Linked DNA regions of Homo sapiens. The protein of the gene in region 2 purifies or fractionates together with the protein of the main gene of each other region. This does not show direct contact. Each region holds a gene or a part of one and is shown on either strand. Other genes may lie near its edges. The genes, in order: HS2ST1, SLC13A3 and GOLIM4.

Region 1 (3,654 bases), on a different chromosome or scaffold from region 2:
GGGCCAACGTAGAGCTCGGGCCATGCCTTCAGAGGGTGCAATCCCCAAGCCTTGGCAGCTTCCACATGGTGTTGAGCCTGCGAGTGCACAGAAGTCAAGAACTGAGGTTTGAGAACCTCAGCCTAGATTTCAGAAGATGTATGGAAACACCTGGATACCCAAGCAGAAGTTTGCTGTGGGGCGGGGCCCTCATGGAGAACCTCTGCTAGGGCAGTGTGGAAGGGAAATGTGGGGTTGCAGCCCCCACACAGATTCCCTACTGGGGCACCACCTAGTGGCGCTGTGAGAAGAGGGCCACTGTTCTCTAGACCTCAGAATGGTAGATCCACTGACAGTTTGCACCGTGCACCTGGAAAAGCCACAGACACTCAATGCCAGCCTGTGAAAGTAGCCAGGAGTGGGGGGCTATATCATGCAAAGCCAAAGGGGTGGAGCTGCCCAAGGCCATGGGAGCCCAACTCTTGCATCAGTGTGACCTGGATGTGAGACATGGAGTCAAAGGATATCATTTTGAAGGTTTAAGATTTCACTGCCCCGCTGGATTTCAGACTTGCATGGGGCCTGTAACACCTTTGTTTTGGCCAATTTCTCCCACTTGGAATGGCTGTATTTACCCAATGTATCTAGGAAGTAACTAACTTGCTTTTGATTTTACAGGCTCATAGGCAGAAGGGACTTGCCTTGTCTCAGATGAGACTTTGGACTGTGGACTTTTGAGTTAATGTTGAAATGAGTTAAGACTTTGGGGGACTGTGGGAAGGCATGATTGGTTTTGAAATGTGAGGACATGAGATTTGGGAGGGGCCAGGGGTGGAATGATATGGATTGGCTGTGTCCCCACACAAATCCCATCTTGAATTCCCCTGTGTTGTGGGAGGGACCTGGTGGGAGGTAACTGAATCATGGGGGCAAGTCTTTCCCATGCTGTTCCCATGATAGTGAATAAGTCTCAAAATATCTGATGGTTTTAAAAAGAGGCATTCCCGCCAGGCGAAGTGGCTCACACCTGTAATCCCAGCACTTTGGGAGGCCAAGGTGGGTGGATCATGAGGTCAGGAGATCAAGACCAGCCTGGCTAACACAGTGAAACCCCATCTCTACTAAAAATACAAAATATTGGCCAGGCGTGGTGGCAGGCACCTGTAGTCCCAGCTACTCGGGAGGCTGAGGCAGGAGAATGGCGTGAACCCAAGAGGCGGAGCTTGCAGTGAGCCGAGATTGCGCCACTGCACTCCAGCCTGGGTGACAGAGTAAGACTCTGTCTCAAAAAAAAAAAAAAAAGGCGTTCCCCTGCATAAGCTTTCTCATTTTTTGCCTGCCACCATAAGATGTGACTTGCTTCTCCTTGCCTTCTGCCACAGTTGTGAGGCTTCCCCAGCCATGTGAACTGTAAGTCCAATTAAGCCTCTTTCTTTTGTAAGTTACTCAGTCTCAGGGCGTCAAAACGGGCTAATACAGGATGTTAAGGAAAGAAATGATACATAATTTTTTAAAGACCTATATTAAACTTCTAGAAGGGCAGGGGGAGGAGTGGGAGGCAACGCCTGAGATAAAAAATAAACTGGGTAATATTAAAAGTGGATTACATACTGCAGAAGGATTGGTGAATTAAAGACCTAGCAGTAAAAACTATCTAAAACAACACACACACACACAAAAAGACTGAGAATGATGAATAGAACATCACTGAACTGTAGAACAATTTCATGTGGTCTAATGTAAGTGTATTTTGAGTTCCTGAGAGGAGAAGCAGCATAGAAAAACTAACGTGAAGAAATAATAGCCAAAAATGTTTAAATGTAATAAAAACTGTAAACTCACAGATCCAAGAAGCTCAACAAACCCCAGGCACAAGAAACATAATACAAGGGCACAAGAAACATAATTTAATAATTAAATAATTAAAAACCTAGTGAAACTCTTAAAAGTAGGCAAAAGAGGAAAAATAAAAGACACGCTACATATAGTTGAACAAAGAATGATGGCAACCTTCTCATCAGAAACAATGCAAGCCAGAAGACAATGAAGCAATATCTTTAAAGTACTGAAACAACAAAAATGTCAGCTTAGAATTCTATACCCAACAAAAATATCCTTCAAACACTATAGCAAATAAAGACTTTTTCAGACACACAAAATGAAAAGAATTCATCACCAGTATATTTTTAAGTGTAAGTAATGTTAAAAGAAATTCTTCAGAGTGAAAAAAATGGTACCACATGAAAATCTGCATACACACACACACACACACACACACACAAAATGAAGAACACTGGGAATGGTAAATATGTCAGCAAATTTTTAAAAAATTTTTAAACATTTTATATATTTTTAAAATATAAGTTAAAGCAAAAATAATAATGTATTGTAGGACTCATGTATAGAAGTAAAATGTATAATGACGATAGCAAGAACCCAGAAAAAAGTGGTAATATATTAAGGTTCTTATACTACACATGAAATTCTATCATGTATACCATAAACCCTTAAGCAACCACTTAAAAAAAAAACAACAACAAAGAGCACTGCTAGTAAGTCATCAAATTAAAAAATGGAATTTAAAAATACCCCTTTAATCCTAAAGACAACAGAAAAAAAGGAATCACAGAACAGTTAAGATAAACAGAAAACAAATAGCAACTCACGAATTTAAACCCAACCACATCAATAATCACATTAAGTGTTCTAAACATTCCATTAACAAAAGAGATTGTGAAATTAGATGAAAGATTAGATGCTGTCTACCAAAAATCCACTTTAAATATAAATACACAAGTAGGTTAATATTAACAGGATGGGAAAAGATATACCACCTGACACTAATCAAAAGAAAACTGAAGTGTCTGTATTAGTATTAGACAAAGTAAGTATCATAGTCCATTGTGTGGTACTATAACAAAATACCTGAGACTGGGTAATTTATAGAAAACAGAAATGTATTTCTTCACAGTTCTGGAAACTGAGAAGTCCAAAATCAAGACACCAGCATCTGTTGAGGGACTTCTTGTGGCATCCTCACATGGTTGGGGGTAGAAATGGCAAAAGGGGGACAAATGCTGTCTTCTTACGTAGAAAAAAGAGAACACACTGCCACAAGCTCTTTTATAACAGTATTAATACAGTTATGAGGGGAGAGCCCTCATCACCTAAACACCCTCCACCTCCCGCCCCAATACTGTTGCATCGGAGATTAAGTTTCCAACATGTGAATTTTGGGGGAGACATTAACACCACAGCAGTAGGTTTCAGAGCAAAGAATATTACCAAGGATAAAGATGGTATCTTGTATAAAAAAAAGGGTTGGTCCATCAAGAAGACATGACAGCCTAAATGTGCATATACTTAATCACAGCACTTCAAAATACATGAAGCAAAAAGTGACATAACTACAAGAAAAACAGACAAATCCACAATTATCAAAGATTTCAAAACCCCTCTCCATAACTGATGAAGAGGCAGAAAAAAATCAAGAATACAAAACACCATAACAATACTACCAACCGACATCTACAGCATACTTCAGCCAATAACAACAGAATACATATTTTTCACGTTCACCTGGAACATTTACCAAGATAGTTTTTTTTTATTTGTAATTGACAAAACTGTATATATTTATCATGTACAACATGTTTTAAAACATGTATATATCAT
Region 2 (3,654 bases):
CAGCCTTCTTAGGCTGGGAACCTGAATATCAGCTGGGAACAATCGGTTTCCACAGCTCAGAGAGCCAAAGGGGCCTTCCTGAAGACATACAACTTTGGAGAGATGGAGCCACCTCTCCTCTTGAGTCTTGGCTCCTGGTACAAAAGCAGCATGAAACTCTGTCTCCAGCCCATTATCCTGCTTCATGTTCTTTTATGTAACCGGTTACCACCTGAAAGCAGATTTTATAGCTTTATATGTTTTCTCCTCTATTAGAATGCAAGCTCTAGGAGAGCAGGGATTGTGTTCCCAGTGCCAAGAACAGTTCCTGGCACATTGTAGGCACTCAAAATATCTGTTGAATGATGAAAACATGTTTCTACAACTTAGAGAAAAAGCTTGATCCAAGCTATCATTCATTCATCCATCCATTTAGCAAACTTTATTCCTGACCACATTTTATGCCCTGGGCTGGAAGCTGGTACAAGGAAAATGACTAAGACATAGCCTAAATTTTTAACAAGTAAATCTGGCCATGCCAACCAATAAACAGTTCTTAGTCAGGTGCCTATAGTCCCAGGTACTTGGGAGGCTTAGGGAAGATGATTGCTTGAGGCCAGGAGTTCAAGTCCAGCCTGGGCAACACAGTGAAACCTGGTCTCTAAAAACCAAACAAAAAAAAACTACAGTGCTTCTCAAACCCAAATCACCTTCCCAGGCTCTTTCTGCCAAATATCCCTCAAACAACAGATGTGTGTTGGTAAATGTTGAACAATTGGCTCTCTGAAAAACTTGTGTGTGTGTGTGTGTGTGCGTGTGTGTGTGTGTGTGTGTATTAAGGTCTGTATTTAATAACTGGCTATTAGAATTCCTAAAAATTTGACAAGCACATTTCCCAAGCCAGCATAAGCTGGCTGCAGCACACCACTGTGGGCCTCCAGGCAGAAGAACATCCATGTATCACCCCCTGGGCCAGGAAATCTGCATCACATTCTGCGCAAAACTGACTTTCTTCCACCCATGCTTGGTATCCTGCTCCACAATGAATTCGTGCTTTTAAAAATATACAATTACTTTCTATCAAATCTTCCTGCTGACCCAAGAAGGAATGCCCCATGTATCCTGTTCTGTGTACCACTCACCAGACCAACAGGTATCCCAATTTGTAAATATGAGTCCTCGGTGGAGATTATAGTCTCAAATTCCCACAGAAGCCCAGACATACCATAAATTAACTCTTGGACCCCTTCAGACAATCCTCATCTTTGCGTTTTGAAAATGATATGACTATAAGATGTTTCACTTTCATCTTAGGTCTATTATGAGACACCTAGACCCCTAGACTGTAGTCCACACCGCTACTTGGCATTCAAGGTTTGGTGCCCAGCCCATCCCTGGTCCTAGATTCCTAGACTGTAGTCCACCCCTCTACTAGGCATTCAAGGTTTGGTGCCTAGCCCATCCTTGGTTCATATGCTTCCACTGCTCAAGGAGACAGACATGAAGACAAATCATTCACCTCCCAGAGAGACAAGGGCTAAAACAGAGTTTAAGACAGTGAGCTATGGAGCAAAGGTGAAAGGCAGCTGTGTCAGCCAGTGGGGTCTGAGAAGGGCAGACACCTCAGCACCTCCTTGCTATGGTCTCAGTGTTTCTGTCCCCCCAGATTCATACATGGAATCCTCATCCCCATTGTAGTGGTAATAAGAGGCAGGGACTTTGGGAGGTGATTAGGTCGTGAGGGCTCTGCCCTCACTAATAGGATTAGTTTCCTCATAAAAAGGGCCTAAGAGCCTTCCTTCTGCCATGTGAGGACACAGCAATAAGGCACTGTCTTTGAAGCAAAGAGCAAGGCCCCACCAGGCACTGAATCTGCCAGTGCCTTGATCTTGAACTTCACAGCCCCCAGAACTGTAAGCAATATATTTCTATTGTTTAAATATCACCCAGTCTAAGGTATTTTGTTATAGTAGCCCAAATGGACTAAGACAGTCCTCCGTCTCTCGCTTCAGTGCCCATCATTCCTGTTCACACCAGTGACGTCTTCAGATTTCTCCGGTTTCAGAAGCACACTTGGCCAAGACTGCCAAGAAATAACACTCCAGGAGTAGCTCCTAGCCACGAACTTCAGTTGCCTTTCAGTGGGATAACTGAGGCATGTCGAATACCATTTCCCAGAAGTCCCCAGTAAGGCTGAGTCACTGCTGCTGGTAGTAACCTCTTCATTGGCACACTTGTATTTCTTCCATGCTCTTCACTGTTTCCCTTCTCCACTGCCCCCAAATTCCTTGCAGTCAAATTGTTGTCTCAGGGTCCTTCTGAAGACCCAATCTAAGACAGAAGCCTTCTCAGACAGGGTGACATCTTTCCGAGCTAGGATTTGAGAGGTGTTTGGCACAGAGAAGGAGAGGGACTGCCTTCTTGCCTATGCTGGAAGCCTCTTTTGTATTTGAGTCAAAAAAAGGCTCATGTCCTCCAGCTGGATTTGGGGTTTATCTGAGCCAAACCCAGTTGAGAGAGGTCCCAGGCATGATCTGATACAATAGAGTCCAAGCTCTGTCATTAGAGCCTGAGTCTTTAGGTCTCTCCTCTCCATCTGCACTGCCCTTGACTAAGGTCAAACTTCATCAGCTTTCACTGAGACTATTTCTCAACTTTTGCACTTGTCTTCATGAATCCTCCACATAAGCAGTCAAAGGAATACTTCTAAAATGCACTTCAGATTATGTCACTCCCCTGCTCAAACACCTCCTCTGGCTCCCCATGGCCCCCAGACTCACAGTCATGGCATTCAAAGCTTATCAGTGTGTCCCAGTACAGGCTTCCCACATTCCCCACTTTCTCTGTTATCTTGGACACAGTTCTCTCAGCAGTCTACGCTGCTTGTCATTCTCTGGGCCTTTGCACATGCTTTTCCTTTTGCCAGGAACATTCTTCTGCTTCTTCATCTAGTGAATTATGACTCATCTTGTAAAGGCCATTTTTATCCTGTGACCCCCACCCTAAAGTCCTGGTCAGTTCCAATATCTATGCTCTCACAGCACTCGGTTCACAGAAGAGCAGAACAGCACAGCGGTTAAGAACATGGGCTTGTTGCAAGACTTCCTGGATTTGAACTATAGCTTGATTACACCATGACTTTCGTGACCTTGGATAGGTGACTTAATGTCCCTGTGATTCAAGTTTCTGTCATTTGCAACTCAGACTCCTGACTAAAACACTCACCTTCTCCATCCTCCTAACAATAAATAATACCTGACATTTTAATAGAACTTAATGTGTGTGCTTTCATCCTTGCTATTGCAAAATTCAGAATATCTCTGTCACACAGTGATGGAAAAAATAAGAACATTTATTGAATGTTACTATGTGCCTGGGACTGTTCTAAGTATGTTATGTCTATTTGTTCATTAAACAACCTTATGAAAGGAAGGTTAGTATTATTTTCATTTACATTTAGCAAATGAGAAAATTGAGGCACAGAGAGGTTAAGACAAGGGATCTTCAAAAAGTTCATGAAAAGTATGTATTATTTAAAAACTATGCATGGGTTTCAAATTTTTGCACCAAAATAAACTCATACTAACTTATTATCACATGTCTGAACAGAATCTAGTTTGAGGCACTAAAAAGGATAGTTCGAAAACAGCCCCTATCAGAGCAACATGAATTCTG
Region 3 (3,654 bases), on a different chromosome or scaffold from region 2:
TGCAAGCTACACCCTTCTAAGCACTGCACATCAGCTAACACTATTGATTCTCAAGATAACCTTTTGTAAGCACTATTATCCTGATTATTACATATGAATAGATTGAGTCACAGAAAGGTTAAATAACTTGCCCATGACCACACAGCTAGCAAAATAAGATAGCAGAAAATCAAATCCAAGTGCTCTGACGCCTCAGCCTGTATCTATTATACCTCACTGCGCACAATACCACCATATATATGCACATTAATAGGCCAAGAAAAAGTACTACATAGGTACTACCAGGCACCAGACGCTGGAGATGAAGGAATAAAAAAAGCCTGGTTCTGTGCTGAAGATGTTTCTCTCTTTTTTTTTTTTTTTTTGAGACAGAGTCTCGCTCTGTTGCCCAGGCTGGAGTGCAGGGGGGTGACTGGGCTCACTGCAACCTCTGTCTCCCAGGTTCAAGCAATTCTCATGCCTCAGCCTCCTGAGTAGCTGGGATTATAAGCATGTGCCACCACACCTGGCTAATTTTTGTATTTTTAGTAGAGATGAGGTTTAGCCATGTTGGCCAGGCTGGTCTCAAACTCCTGATCTCAAGTGATCCACCCGCCTCAGTCTCCCAAAGTGCTGGGATTACAGGCGAGAGACAGGGTGCCTGGCCAATGTTTCCTTTCTAAAAGTAGATTTAGGGAAGGTTGAAAGCAAAGAAGTAACCAATGACAAGATGTATTCATGCTTAGGCCAGTGGGCCATCCTGAGTGTTAGAGGAGCCCAATGCAAAAAACACTTAAATAACAAATGTCTGCACACCGAAAGAAACAACACAGTAAACAGCCTACAAAATAGGAAAAAATATCTGCAAAGTATGCACCTGATAAAGGGCTAATATCCAGAAGCTACAAGGAACTCAAGCAGCTTGACAAGAAAAAAAAAAATTAAAAACTGAGCAGAGGACATGAAAAGACATTTTTAACAGGAAGCTAGACAAGAAGACAACACACATAGGAAAAAATGCTCAACATCACTAAGCATGAGAGAAATGCAAGTTAAAATCACAGTGAGATACCATCTTACACTAGTCAGAACGGCTTTTATTAAAAAGTCAAAAAACAACAAATGTTGGCAAACATGCAAAGAAACGGGAATGCTTATACACTGTTGGTAGGAATGTAAACTAGCACAACCTTTCTGGAAAACAGTATCAGGATTTCTCAAAGAACTAAAAATAGAGCTACCATTCACTCCAGCAATCCCAATACTAGGTATATACCCAAAGGGAAATAAATAATTATACAAAAAAGATACCTGCACTTGTATGTTTATTGCAGCACTATTCACAACAGCAAAGATATGGAATCAACCTAAGCGTCCATCAACAGAGAACTGGTAAAGAAAATGTGGTATATATACACCATGGAATACTACTCAGCCGTAACAAGGAATGAAATCATGTCTTTTGCAGCAACATGGATGGACCTGGAGGCCATTATCCTAAGGGAAATAACTCAGAAAAAGAAAAGTCGAAGATAGCATGTTCTCATTTACAAGTGGGAGCTATACAACGGGCACACATGGACATAGAGAGTGGAAGTGGAGACTACAAAAGGTGGGAGGCTAGCAGGGGGTGAGAGTTGGAAATTTTCCTGTGGGGTAAACATGTCCATTCTTTGGGTGCACTGAAAGCCCAGACTTCACCACAACTCAATATATGCATGTGAGAAATCCACACTTGTAACTCTGCACTTCTACACGTCACATTTGTGACCTTTTTTTAAAATTTTAAATAGTTGTAACATATTCATCTGGAATAGGAACATATAAACCTTACATAAACTTTTTCTGGATGGTTTCTCCTTATCCCTGGAAGTCCAAAAGCATTGCAATACTGTGTTTTAGGAATGTCAGGCTCTTTGCCTCTACACTAAATGCCTTTTATAAAAATTTAAATAGTTATATCTCTCTCCCAGATCTCACAGCACATAATTATTACCTTAGCAGTCACACCCTCTCCTAATCTGATATGATCCAGAACAGAGTTAATCAGTAACCGCAGTCCAAGTTTAAATTGTCAAGGAAGGTCCTTTCTTCTGATTAAAGTACACTGGATGTTTGCATATTCCTTGATGTTCATTTAAGGTACAATAAAAGGAGGTGGTTAGCTACATAAACAAATTCTGCCAATTTCAAAATTTGAAATTACCCATGACAAACCTGGCAAGAGTAAAAGGGATAAAGCAGCTTACCTCAAAGAGGGATTCTGATAACAGCTAACTTTTAACGAGCAGTACCTACTATATGCCAAGTATGTGCTAAGAGCTCTACAGTCTATCATCTTCATTAATCCTCACAATACCTCTATAAAATAGGTTATTCTAATCTCCACTTTATAAATAAGAAAAACGTCAAGGTTCACACAAAAGGTTGTAGAACTAGAACTGAATTACAGTCTAGAAACCAGTCTGCTTTTAATCACATACTCAGATAAAAAATTCAAGTGTCTCTGGGGCCAAACAAGTAAAGTAAATGCACGGAAAGGCTCAGTTTTAAGATTTTTTATAGAGGTGTGGCTCTCAACCTTGGCTGCACACAGGAATCACCAGGGGAGCTTTAAAGACTTTTGAAGCCTGGGTTCCACCCCCCATAGACTGTTATTTAATTGGTCTGGGAGCCACCAGGTGATACTAATGGGCAGTCTAGACTGAGAAACACTGCCTATAGATACAGACAATGGAGCATGGCTCACTTGAAAGCAGTTTAAAAACTTTAAAGGTTATATAAACACTGTGCTGGCCAAAGATTGTTATTACCTTTGCCACCAGTATGTGACCTCTGTCCCACTCCTCAGTATAATTAAGGTGCCAGTATGGGAGATAAATAGATGACTGATTGCTAAGAGGGATAGATAAACAGGCAGACATAGATATTTTTATAGTGGAAGGGGTTTGCCTAGTCTCTGACCTTTCTGCATGCCATCCCCACCATCTTCTAGTTATGGGGCTCTTCTACAATAAAACTTGTTAACTTGGGGTTACAAGTAACCCACTTTCAAAGGAATCTATGGAGTATAATCTATTCTTAAACTGAAGGTGACCTAAATACGCTCACTTAACGAACGCACATCATCAGATTATAGGTCTAAACTACTGAAATTTTTTCAAGAGTCATTTTTAAAAAGACCACTCTTTTTAAAGTCATTAATTCTGATCTTAATCCAAGCCAGGTCAAGCAATCCCACCTAACTAAACAAGTATTAAGACTGGAGAGCCTGATGTCCTAAAAGCCCATCTATGCAGGTGGTACACAGTGCTGTTGAGTAAAATGTCATTTGTCTTGGAAAAGGGAAGCAAAAGTTGCATACCACCAGAAAATGTACATTAAATGGCTTACACATGGGAAATCCAAAATAAATGCTACTGAAGTCAAAAGTGAATCCACAAAAAACAAAAACAAACAAAAAAATACTTTAGCCTGCTTGTGAAATAATTATTCATGCACAATTATACTGCAAGTTTTGTAGCACCATAATTAGAGAGGAAATGACAAAAGAATAAATTAAGAAAGGGACTTTGAAGCCACTTATTCAAATTAGGTAGAACATTTCCATCTGCTGCAAAACAAAAGTTGTATATTTTAATGATCCTGTATTACCATTTACCACCTCTCTTCCCC

The links.
Region 1: the proteins of SLC13A3 (region 2) and HS2ST1 purify together in Homo sapiens (affinity purification with mass spectrometry; one large-scale study listed by BioGRID and IntAct). This does not show direct contact.
Region 3: the proteins of SLC13A3 (region 2) and GOLIM4 purify together in Homo sapiens (affinity purification with mass spectrometry; one large-scale study listed by BioGRID and IntAct). This does not show direct contact.

What each region holds. Positions count from the first base shown.
Region 1 is NC_000001.11:86,921,026-86,924,679, reverse strand, and holds part of HS2ST1 (heparan sulfate 2-O-sulfotransferase 1), read right to left. Parts: intron 1-3,654. UniProt on the Homo sapiens protein: Catalyzes the transfer of a sulfo group from 3'-phospho-5'-adenylyl sulfate (PAPS) to the 2-OH position of iduronic acid (IdoA) or glucuronic acid (GlcA) within the heparan sulfate (HS) chain and participates in HS biosynthesis.
Region 2 is NC_000020.11:46,616,817-46,620,470, forward strand, and holds part of SLC13A3 (Na(+)/dicarboxylate cotransporter 3), read right to left. Parts: intron 1-3,654. UniProt on the Homo sapiens protein: High-affinity sodium-dicarboxylate cotransporter that accepts a range of substrates with 4-6 carbon atoms, such as the citric acid cycle intermediates succinate and alpha-ketoglutarate (2-oxoglutarate), as well as other compounds including N-acetyl-L-aspartate.
Region 3 is NC_000003.12:168,089,422-168,093,075, forward strand, and holds part of GOLIM4 (Golgi integral membrane protein 4), read right to left. Parts: intron 1-3,654. UniProt on the Homo sapiens protein: Plays a role in endosome to Golgi protein trafficking; mediates protein transport along the late endosome-bypass pathway from the early endosome to the Golgi.